Linked DNA regions of Homo sapiens. The protein of the gene in region 1 interacts with the protein of each later gene in a pairwise test. Each region holds a gene or a part of one and is shown on either strand. Other genes may lie near its edges.

The links. The genes of interacting proteins can lie anywhere in the genome.
Region 2: the proteins of MLIP (region 1) and ABLIM2 interact in a two-hybrid assay, tested with the Homo sapiens proteins (one large-scale study listed by BioGRID).

What each region holds. Positions count from the first base shown.
Region 1 is NC_000006.12:54,138,032-54,143,619, forward strand, and holds part of MLIP (muscular LMNA-interacting protein), read left to right. Parts: coding exon 1-255; intron 256-5,588. UniProt on the Homo sapiens protein: Required for myoblast differentiation into myotubes, possibly acting as a transcriptional regulator of the myogenic program. Required for cardiac adaptation to stress through integrated regulation of the AKT/mTOR pathways and FOXO1.
Region 2 is NC_000004.12:8,022,362-8,027,416, forward strand, and holds part of ABLIM2 (actin-binding LIM protein 2), read right to left. Parts: intron 1-5,055. UniProt on the Homo sapiens protein: May act as scaffold protein. May stimulate ABRA activity and ABRA-dependent SRF transcriptional activity.

The sequences.
Region 1 (5,588 bases):
CCCAACTTGAGGTCCTCCTCTCTCCCTCATGCCAATCTGCCCACCCTGGTGCCCCAGCTCAGTCCCTCAGCTCTGCACCCACATTGCGGCAGTGGTACCTTGCCTTCAAGACTTGGGAAATCTGAAAGCACCACCCCCAACCACAGGTCACCTGTTTCAACCCCATCACTTCCCATATCTCTAACAAGGACAGAGGAGCTGATTTCACCTTGTGCATTGTCCATGTCAACAGGCCCAGAAAATAAGAAATCAAAGGTATTTTTTGCATGTTGCATGGTGCATGCTTATTTTGAAACAGGGAAGAATCTTTTTTTTTTCCCCAAGGCAGAAATCAATAATTATAGTATTAATTGTACTCCTACAAGGAGGAAGAAAAAGTGCAAGACGGTACCAGGACTTGGTATATTTGAATGTGTAAATGAATTATAATCTGTATAGAATTATGTGTTTCAGTCAAATCCTTTGATTTTGAAAATCCTCTTTCTCTTCCTAACTTCTTATATCTATGACTCCAAGGGTATTATTTTTCCTCAGACATAATATGAGTTATATCATTGGCCCTAATGACAGAATTAAAAGCAAGTAGTAGAGATTCAGGACTATGATATGTTTCTGATTGTTTATTAACAGGGACCCTAGCATCCATCCAAATATCCTGTACTGATGGAATAGTAGACAGGATTAATATAAAATGGAATATTATCTTAGATCTAGGCCTGTGACATAGCCAAGCACGTTCTCGTAGCAGAAAGCAACTCTACACTAAGGCATGCTGGCTTCCCAACTATTCTCAAGTAATTCAGATTGTGGATCACCCATACCCAGAATTTGATAGCTGTTATATCAATAAAACAAAACAGTTAAAGTGCCTGCATAAGAAGGGGTGGTGATTTTCAGCTCAGCACATTGAAATAATGTAGTTTTAGAGCTTTGAAATACCATGGAGAGTATGTTTCACTGTCACTTTTCAGATGATGAATGTCACGTTGAAGGGATAAAGTGACCCTCATTATCTTGTAAATGATGTCACAAAACAATTCAAGTCAAAAACATGCATTAAATACCTGCTATATGTGTACCACTATACTAGCTTTCTTTAGAGTGTGTGTGGTTTCTTTTAAAGGGAAGTAAGAGATTTTTTTTGTCTTAGAATAATTCAATTTTAATCAGTAGAAAAAAATATACACAATTTGGAGAGGCTATATACAGTTATTAAATCTACAGTACAGCTAGAAAACCAATATAAGGCAAAATTAATTGTGTAAGTCAGATTATAAATAATCATCAACTGAGTTCAATATAACAGGAGTAATGTGATGGAACATGGTTAGTAAGGGAAGTTATAAAAAATGTCAGGCCTGTCGGAAATATTTAGGATTTAACTTAATGAAGAGGAAAGAAGTTGGCATTTCAGAAATGGAAAACAATCTGACCAAATATACAGAAGATGATCTCAGAAGTCTGTGTGTGGAGACATAAGACGATTAGCCTTATAATCTGACGGTAATAATAGCAGCAATATCAAATGCTTTCTGTGAGTCAGGAACTATGCTAGTATACAAAATAGTTGAAAAATTAATTAAAATGGATTACATCAGTTAAGTTTTGTAACTATATGAAGTTGATAATACTATTTTCCCTATTTTGTACACCAAAAAACTGAAGTTCAGTGAATAATTGTCCAGGTAATGGGTCTGTTTCGGAGCTGACATTTATGTAATGTTAAGTCTGTTGATTCTTGAAGCCATGTTCTTTATTACTATCATTTATTGCTACAAAGAAATAACTCATGTTAGCAATTTAGCCTGACTTTACAATTCTCATGAAGAAAATCATTATTAAGGAATTATAACCAGAATTCCCAATTTATATAATTTTGGGGTCATTTAAAAAATGTATTGGAGATTAAGTCCTTGTATTTTAAACATTCAAAGAAAATGAGATGGATAAAATTTAACTTTTTCTGTGATTCTCAATTGACAATCCTACTTATTTGAGGTAAATTGACCTGTTTATTATATTTTAAATACATATATGTGATTATAAAATTTATTTGTAGAGTATTTAAAACGAACTCACAATCTAATCATTACTGTTTCCTGAGTGCATTAACTATCATTTTTTGAACCATGATGCCATATACTTATTCTTTTTTTGTGAAAAGTGATTTCACTCTAGAAGCTTTTTCAAAGCATTTCTATGTGTGTTTCACCACACTTTATGTTTTCTCCTGTTTTGGATATAGTCAGAGAGTTGGAAGAGGGTGAGCCCCAAAGGGCTTTTGATACATTAAAGGCATATTTATTGAAGACCTATTGTTTTGGGGCTCTCTTCCTGCACCCAACATTGAAAAATTTTCAGCATTTGCTTTTTACTTTTTAAAGAATTTCCAAGTAAAGAAAATTCAAAGAAATGCAAAGTAAATTTGATGAACAGGAAAATAAGAATGATTATAATTTAACTACCAGTAAAAATATCAATAGATTTCTTTGAACAGAAAAAAAAGCTTCTTATCATGGGTAAAATTTATAATAGCTTCTGCAAAAATAGAATAGTATGGACTATGAGACAATGCTATTCTTTTTCATGTTTATTTTCTCCTTGCATCTTGCTATATTATCTCTTTAGGTAAAAATCAGAAAGTCAGCCTACTTTTTTTTATTACAATCTATTATTTTCAGAAATCGTATCTTGAGTATAAAAAACTTATTAAAATGGATGTGGAATAGATAAATCTTATCCCAAGCTCTTTTGATGTTTGGCTAGTGTTTAAATTGGTAACATTATTTTACAGAATGATAGGAAGAAATAGACAAATGCTGTGTGATATTGAAGAATTTATATGCTTTCATGGGTTGTTTCTTGTCTTGCTCCTTCCAGTGTGATGCTAAGCTGAGCACAGGACTCTTTTTGAAATCAAAGAGCTTTAGATTTAGGTCAGCTTTACTCACTCTGAGATTCTGAAATAACAGGGATCATAGAATACAGATGGCATCTAATTAAAACATGAGTGCTTGGAGGATATTAGTTTAAAGTCTGGGCTCTACTGTCCTTTGATATTAAAATAAAATGGATCAACCATAGTATGCTGAGCTAAATTCAGATATAAAGTGTGTTTGATGTTCCTTTTTCATACATAAAATCTTAAGGTTCTGAATCTGCTTGCATTTGTGTGATATAATTGCTATGATATGTTAAATTCAGATGTAGTTTAAAATACTATTTCACATTATAATCATTGCTTTAGATAGGATGGGCATCTGAATGCTGCTCAGCCTGCCTTTTTTTTTTTTTGAGACACGTCCCACTGTGTCGCCCAGGCTGCAGTGTAGTGGTGTGATCTTGGCTCACTGCAACCTCTGCCTCCTGGGTTCAAATGATTCTCCTGCCTCAGCCTCCCAAGTAGCTGGGATTACAGGTGTGCACCATAACATCCGGCTAATTTTTGTATTTTTAGTAGAGACGGGGTTTCACCATGTTGGCCAGGCTGGTCTTGAACTTTTGACCACAAGTGATCCGCCTGCCTCGGCATCCCAAAGTGCTGGGATTACAGGCGTGAGCCACCATGCCTGGCCTACTTTTTGATCAACATCTATATTGTCTGAGACTTTTTTTTCCCATGCAAAAGACTGGATATTACAAAATTCACCCATGGAGTTGTGTCTGGGTCCCCAATCTGTTCTGCCTTCATTTATAAAAGAATTTAAATTTTTATCCTAGTGAATTAGTATGGTGGTCCATATGGAAATTAGGGTAAGCATTTCATCAAAGCCTCGTAGAGTCTGCCACTTACCGAAGACAGTCTGAAGATTAGTTCCAATTATAAAGACTCTCCATTCATGGGCCTGCCCTGGGCTTAAAGCTATTTGGACACATAGCTTATTTAGGGAACAAGTTGAGAGCTATTTTATATTTCATAAAACTTTATAACTGGTGTTTTATTCACAAAAGTCTCCTTCCTTTAAGACATCAAAACATTCCCAAATACATCACACTGAAAACTTAGTGGCAGCAGTCTATCTGTGACTTTCTTCATTTCTGCAGAACCACATGTAATTTGGAAAATGAGCAATATGGAATGTGTCTGCCTGAGATAAAATAGTTAATCTGGGTTCAAGCAAATCAGTCATTCAATAAATATGTATTGATTACCTAATAGGTGTGCTTTTCAAAGCTGTGAGGATATTGCAATAAATAAAATATGCAATGATGCCTGTTCAAAGACAGTTTATATTCTTTGGTGGAAGAGAAACAATCAATAATAACCCCTCCAAATAAGTAAATTATTGTGTGTGTCAGAAGGTCATATGTGTCATAGAGAAAAGTATATCCCTGATTCTCAAGGGAAATAGAGAAGGGATGGTGTCACAAGTTATGTTGGGGTATTGGGATAGGTTTCTTTGAGAATGTAACATCCAAGGAGGTGATACTCCTTAAGAGAGTATAGTGAGGAAGATGCTCTGAGGCCAGAGAGTGCTTGACAGGTACAAAGAACACATTCTGGGCTAGCAGTGAGGAACAGGATGTTGAGGTTGTCAGAGGGAGATGTAGCTGGGAGCCGGATCCTGTAGGAGGGTCTTGTGGGCCACTCTTTAGTCTTTGATTTTTACTTTAAGTAAGACAGGAAGTCTTTGGAGGGTTTCAAATAGATAAGTGACCATCTTAACTATCTCACTGCTAAATAAGAATAGACCATGAGAGGGTGAAAGTTTAAGCTGGGAGAACTTAGAAGTCTATTGCTACCATCTAGGTGAGTGATGATGGTGGCTATGGTCAAGTTATAGCAGTGAAGGTGAAGATAAGATTTCCATTATGTTTTGTAGGCAGAGTAACAAACATTCACCAAACATCAGAGCCACTACGTGAAATGAAAAAAACAACAACAACAAAAAAAAAACGCTGAAACTAGCCTTATGTGCTTTCTTATTTTGTTTTTCTCTTTTTATCTCACTGTCATTTACTCCACTCCCTTCACAAAGTTCTTGAGAATCCTTGACTTTCCAGGCTTCTTTCAGCTATGCTATCTGTCACTCGGCCTCTATACTGACCAGTTCTGTGTACCACTCCTGTGCTTCTCTCCAGCTAGCCTCTCTGAATTGATCCTAGTAACGGTTCGCACTCAGGTGTTCAATGATTGACAAAAGCTTGTCTTCCTCTCTAACCCCGCACTCCCTGGGGGGATTTGCTTTTTTTTTTTTTTTTTGAGGTGTAGTTTCGCTCTTGGCGTCCAGGCTGGAGTGCAATGGCGCAATCTCGGCTCACTGCAACCTCTGCCTCCCAGGTTCAATTGATTCTCCTGCCTCAGCTGGGATTACAGTCACCTGCCACCACACCCAGCTAAGTTTTGTATTTTTAGTAGAGACGGGGTTTCACCACATTGGCCAGGCTGGTCTTGAACTCCTGACCTCAGGTGATCCGCCTGCCTTGGCCCCCCAAACTGTTAGAATTATAGGCATGAACCACCACACTGGCCAGGATTTGCATTTTAATTGAGGGGAGTGTGCAGTTTAACTCAAACAAGAGAATTGTCAAAGGAAAAAACAGGGATCAAGATAATGCAGCAAATGTTACAGGTTTACGTCATGAAG
Region 2 (5,055 bases), on another chromosome or scaffold:
CTGAAGTTTCAAACCAGAGTCTGTGGACACATGTGCACGTCTATTTGAGGAGGGTCCGGAGACTCATCAGCTTTCATCAGATACTTGGAGGGGCCTGAGGCCGCAGGGAAGCTGGGGACACAGCCATGTTGGCCCACCTCATTCTGGCCCCCCAGGGCCCTCTAACACCAGCCCGAGTCCTGCCACCTCGGTCCCTCCCTCCCAGCACCCCGCCCCTTGACGAGTGTCCTCTCCAGGGCTTCCCACCTGTCCGGACCCTTCCTGGGTCCAGGTTCAGGCTCTGCCTCCTCTGCTCAGCCTTCTGGTAGGACTTGGTCTCTGAGGACCTCTCCCTCCTCTGCACTCATGCCTGCCTGCTGCCTGTGAGGCTTCGTTGGAACAAAATGCATCGCCAGCTCCCACCTGGAGCACTGTGCTGCTAGGCTCACATCCCAGGGGGCTTCTGATATGCTACAGACGGGGATGCTTCAGCATCCTTTAACCTGGGATGCTGCCTGTTAGGAGAGGAGCAGCTTCAGCCCTTTCGAAAAGTCTTCCTTCTCCTCTTCTTCCTCCTCCACTTTTTCCTCTTCCTCCTCCTCCTCCTCTTCTTTTTCCTCTTCCTCCTCTGCCTCCTCTTCCTCTTTTTCCTTTCTCCTCCTCCTCTTCCTCCTTCACTTTTTCCTCTTTCTCCTCCTCCTCCTCCTTCTTCTCTACTTTTTCCTCTTCCTCCTCCCCCTCCTCTCCTCTTCCATTTTTAAAAATTTCAGTAAATGTTTCATTAGGAACAGCTTCAGGTAGTCCAGGGGGCTCCCGCACCCTCCCGGCCCGCGTCCCTGCCGTCCCCTCTCCCATCACTAGGGTGCCCACAGATTGGTGCCACCTGCACGCCGCACGGGATTCGGGTTTCCCCGGGTGTCACCTGATGTTCTTCCGCTCCAGGATCCCACCCAGGAAACATGACGTTCTGTCGGCACGTCTCCCAAGGCTCCTCTCGGCTGCGACCTTTTGCAGACGTTCCTTGTGTCTGAGGACTCTGGCAGTTTTGAGGAGGGCTGCTGAGGGTTTTTGCCTGATGTTTTCTCATGGCGATACTGGGCTTATGGGGTTGAGAAGGAAGCCCATGAGGTGAAGTGTCCTCACCACATCCTATCAAGGGCACCTGCTGTCAGCAGAGCGGATCACTGGCCGTGGCGGCCTTGCTGACCGGGTCATGCTCGTCAGCCATGGTGGCCTGCTCCACGGTGGACTTGCTCCTTCTCTCCCCTCCCACATGGCGCTCTCGGGAAGGAGCCACTCTGTGTAGCCCACACTTGTCCACATGTCAGGAGTGGGAGTTACGACCCCCTCCTGGAGGACGAGGCATCTACTCCCGTTATTTGGAATTCCTCTGTGTGGGAGATCTCGCTTTCTCTCCATTTATTTGTTTACTCAACATTTATGTAGATCCTTGTGGACTGACGGCTCTTGCTATTATACTCTAGTTTACAATCCAATGACACATCCTTCATCGTGGTGCTCCCAGTGGCCCAGTGTGTGCCTGGTGCTGGCTCAGCTGGCTCCTGTGGAGCCTCCTCCAGGTGACACCGCAGAGAGGCCAGCTGGTGGCCACGGGCAGGCCAGGTAGGATGATGCCCATGCTGCAATGCACAGCCACATCCTGGGTCCTCAACCACAATCACCCTGAGGACGATGCTTCAGTTATGAGGACCTTTTGCAGCTGAAGGAATGGCCGCTCAGCAAGATGAAGAGGCGCTGCCGGGGTCTGGGCAGTGGAGGGTGCGGGCCTGGACCTGAGGCTCCATCCCAGGGCCCCTCCCTCCTTCCTTCTCAGGCCAGGGGTTCAGAGTGGGCCCACCGCTCAGCACATGGAGGCTGCCTGGCCAGAGGCTTCAGCAGCACCGACTCCCCTCCCAGCCTGCACTTCCTGCCCCCGCTGTCGGCTCCTCCACAGGGGACACGCCAAACTGAAATTCACACAAAAGTGCCCATGGCTGTGGCCAGCACCACTCTGGAAGCTGGGTCTTGGTGGGAAGGTGTGCCGGGGGTGAGGCCCTGCCAGCATTCGGTGGGGGGTGGGGCCAGGCCTTGCCTCGGGCAGCCGCCCCCGTACAGTGCCGTCCGGAGGGAAATGTCCACTGAGAGGGGCCAGAGACGCCAGAGGAGCCCGGGGAGCAAACAGGAAGGGCTTTCCCAGAGGGCAGGCGACGCTGCCTGGTGTCCAGCTGACCCCTGGGGGCTGCCACCAAGAGGTCCTAGGCTGGGACACACTGGAGCCCATGGCTGCAGAGGAGGACAGGCACCTTCGTGTGGCCTCCGAGGTCGACCCAGGACCTGAGGGTGAACACAATTTGTGAACGGGACCCCGGGTAGAAGCCTGACCTTGGGCTCTGCCAGAAGGAGCTTTGGGATCTTGGCCAGTGGCTTCTCTTCTGAGCCTCAGTTCCCTCAGGAGTACATTCTGGAAAGAGGCTGGGTGTTCCCAAGGTTACGGACAGCCAGGGGAGTCTAGTAGGGGCAGAGCATGGGTGCCAGGCTCCCCCACACCAGACACCAGAGAGGTGGCCAGGTGGCTTTTTGTGATTTCTTTTTTCTCTTTTTTTGAGATGTAGTCTCGCTCTGTTGCCCAGGCTGGATGGAGTGCAGTGGCTCAGTCTCAGCTCACTGCAACCTCCGCCTCCTGGATTCAAGCAATCCTCCCGCCTCAGCCTCCCTAATAGCTGGGACCACAGGTGCGCCACCACACCCGGCTAATTTTTGTATTTTTAGTAGAGACGTGGTTTCACCATGTTGGCCAGGCTGGTCTCGAACTCCTGACCTCAGGTGATCCGCCCACCTTGGCCTCCCAAAGTGCTGGGATTACAGGGGTGAGCCACCACGCCTGGCCTCATGTGATTTCTGAACGAAGGGCACTGGCAGGCAATGTGGCCGGGGGAACCAGGGCAGAGATGGGCATCAAAGAGGCAAAAACCTGGCCCCACCCAGGGGAGGTCTCAAAGGGAAGGTGCCTCCTGGCCCCGGGAGATGCCCTTGGAGGGGCTGTGGCATAGACGGCTTCGGAGCCACATTGTGGTGGGGGGTGGTGGGTAGGTGGGTAGCCTCCAAACTGGTGGTGGGTAGGTGGGCACCCTCCTCTGCTACAAGGCGTGGAAGGAAGGGGAGAGGGCTGCCAGTCCTTGGGCTCTCTCCTTGGCTGTCTCGGGAGCTGAGGAGGGGGCTGCTCCCCAGGGGGCCTGTCCTGGGCCTTCTTCACCCTGAAGTGGTAAGAATTAGACGGTGGACACTCAGGACGGGGCAGAGGAGGGGAGGGTCGCCAGGGCTGGCTCTGGCTCTAGGACCCACAGAGGCTGCTCACAGGGGCTGCCTGGGGAGCGGGGTGAGCCTGCCCTCGGCTCTGGCCACTTCCCTCTCAGGGACTCACAGTTGGGACAGCCACACCAGAAGGAGGGCTGAAGGTGGGAGGAGAGCCGGGTGTCCAGGGCCTCCTGGCATGGAGCAACAGGAGAAGCGGCATCTCCTTGGGTGCCCTGCCGTGACTCACCCAAATGGTTGATTCACTCTGGGTTTCAGGACCGCCCCCTGCCACACGACTGCCGTGGACCACACGCAGCAAAGCCCCTGCTGGCCATGCTTCTGTTCTGGGGAGGGGCCCTTTCTGGCTTTGCTTGTTTGTTTGTTGTTGTCTGAGACAGGGTCTTACTCTGTTGTCCAGGCTGGAGTGCAGTGGCACAATCGTAGCTCACTGCAGCTTCAAACTGCTGGCCGAAGCAATCCTCCTGCCTCAGCCTTCCGAGGAGTTGGGATTACAGGCATGCACCACCATGCCCGGCGTTTTTCTTTTTTCAGACAAAGGGTCTCACCAGGTTTCCCAGGCTGGTCTTAAACTCTTGGCCTCAAGTGATTCTCCTGCTTGGGCCTCCCAAAGCAGTGGGATTACAGGTATGAGCCATTGCACCCAGGTGAAGACTTTGCTTCTTCTCAAAGGAGTCAGATCATCCCAAAGCTGTAGGGACAGGCCCTCAGAAAAATGAGGACGGCCATGTCCATCAATGGCCAGGAACTCTCAGTAGGCCACGGGGCCCGCCCAAAGCAATGATGATGAGGTACACGGAGAGGTGTGCAGGTCTGAATGAACCCTGTTTGGTGACCATCCAGTGATGGAGAGTCCAGCTGCCTGCCCCACCTTCTCGCTGCCTGCGGCCTGGGAGGCTTTTCCAGAGACATTCCCACTCAGCAGCTGCTCAGGATGGGGAATTATTGCATTGCTTGGGGAATTGGCAAGAACATCATTGCTGCCTCCTCTAATGTTCTGAGTGTCTTTCTGTGGTGCACCAGTCAGCTGGGCTGTGTCACAAAATACCACAGCCTGTGTGGCTTAAACAACAGGCATATTTCCTCTCACAGTGCTGGAGGCTGCACATCTCTGAGCCAGGTCTGGCAGGGTGTGGCTTCTCCTGAGACTGTTTTTCCTGGCTTGCAGACATCGCTGTGTCTGCAGTGGCCTTTTACCTGAGTGTGTGTGTCTGCAGTGGCCTTTTACCTGAGTGTGTGTGTCTGCAGTGGCCTTTTACCTGAGTGTGTGTGTCTGCAGTGGCCTTTTACCTGAGTGTGTGTGTCTGCAGTGGCCTTTTATCTGAGTGTGTGTCTGCAGTGGCCTTTTACCTGAGTGTGTGTGGAGAGGGAGCGAGCTTTGGCGTCTCTTCTCTTCTTATAAAGATGTCAGTACTATGGGATCTGTGCCCACCCTGAGGACCTCATCTAACTGATCACCTCTTTAAAGGCCCCCTCTACAGATACAGTCACGTCAGGAATTAGGGCTCTATGAATGTGGGGGATGCATTTTTCAGTCCACAGCATACAGGAAAACATGAGCGTGGCCGTTTCCCTGCGTGACCAGCATGTGGGTGCCCGTGCAGGGATGTGGATGGCTCATCCACTCCTGGAAGAGCCGAGAGTTGGAGCCACACTGGGTGTGAACCCTGCCCTGGGCCCCAGGAGCTCTGGGGCTGTGGAAGAGTCAGGGCCCTCCGTACAGCGTAGCTTCTGCTCCTGAACACAAACCCTGAGAGCACCTGT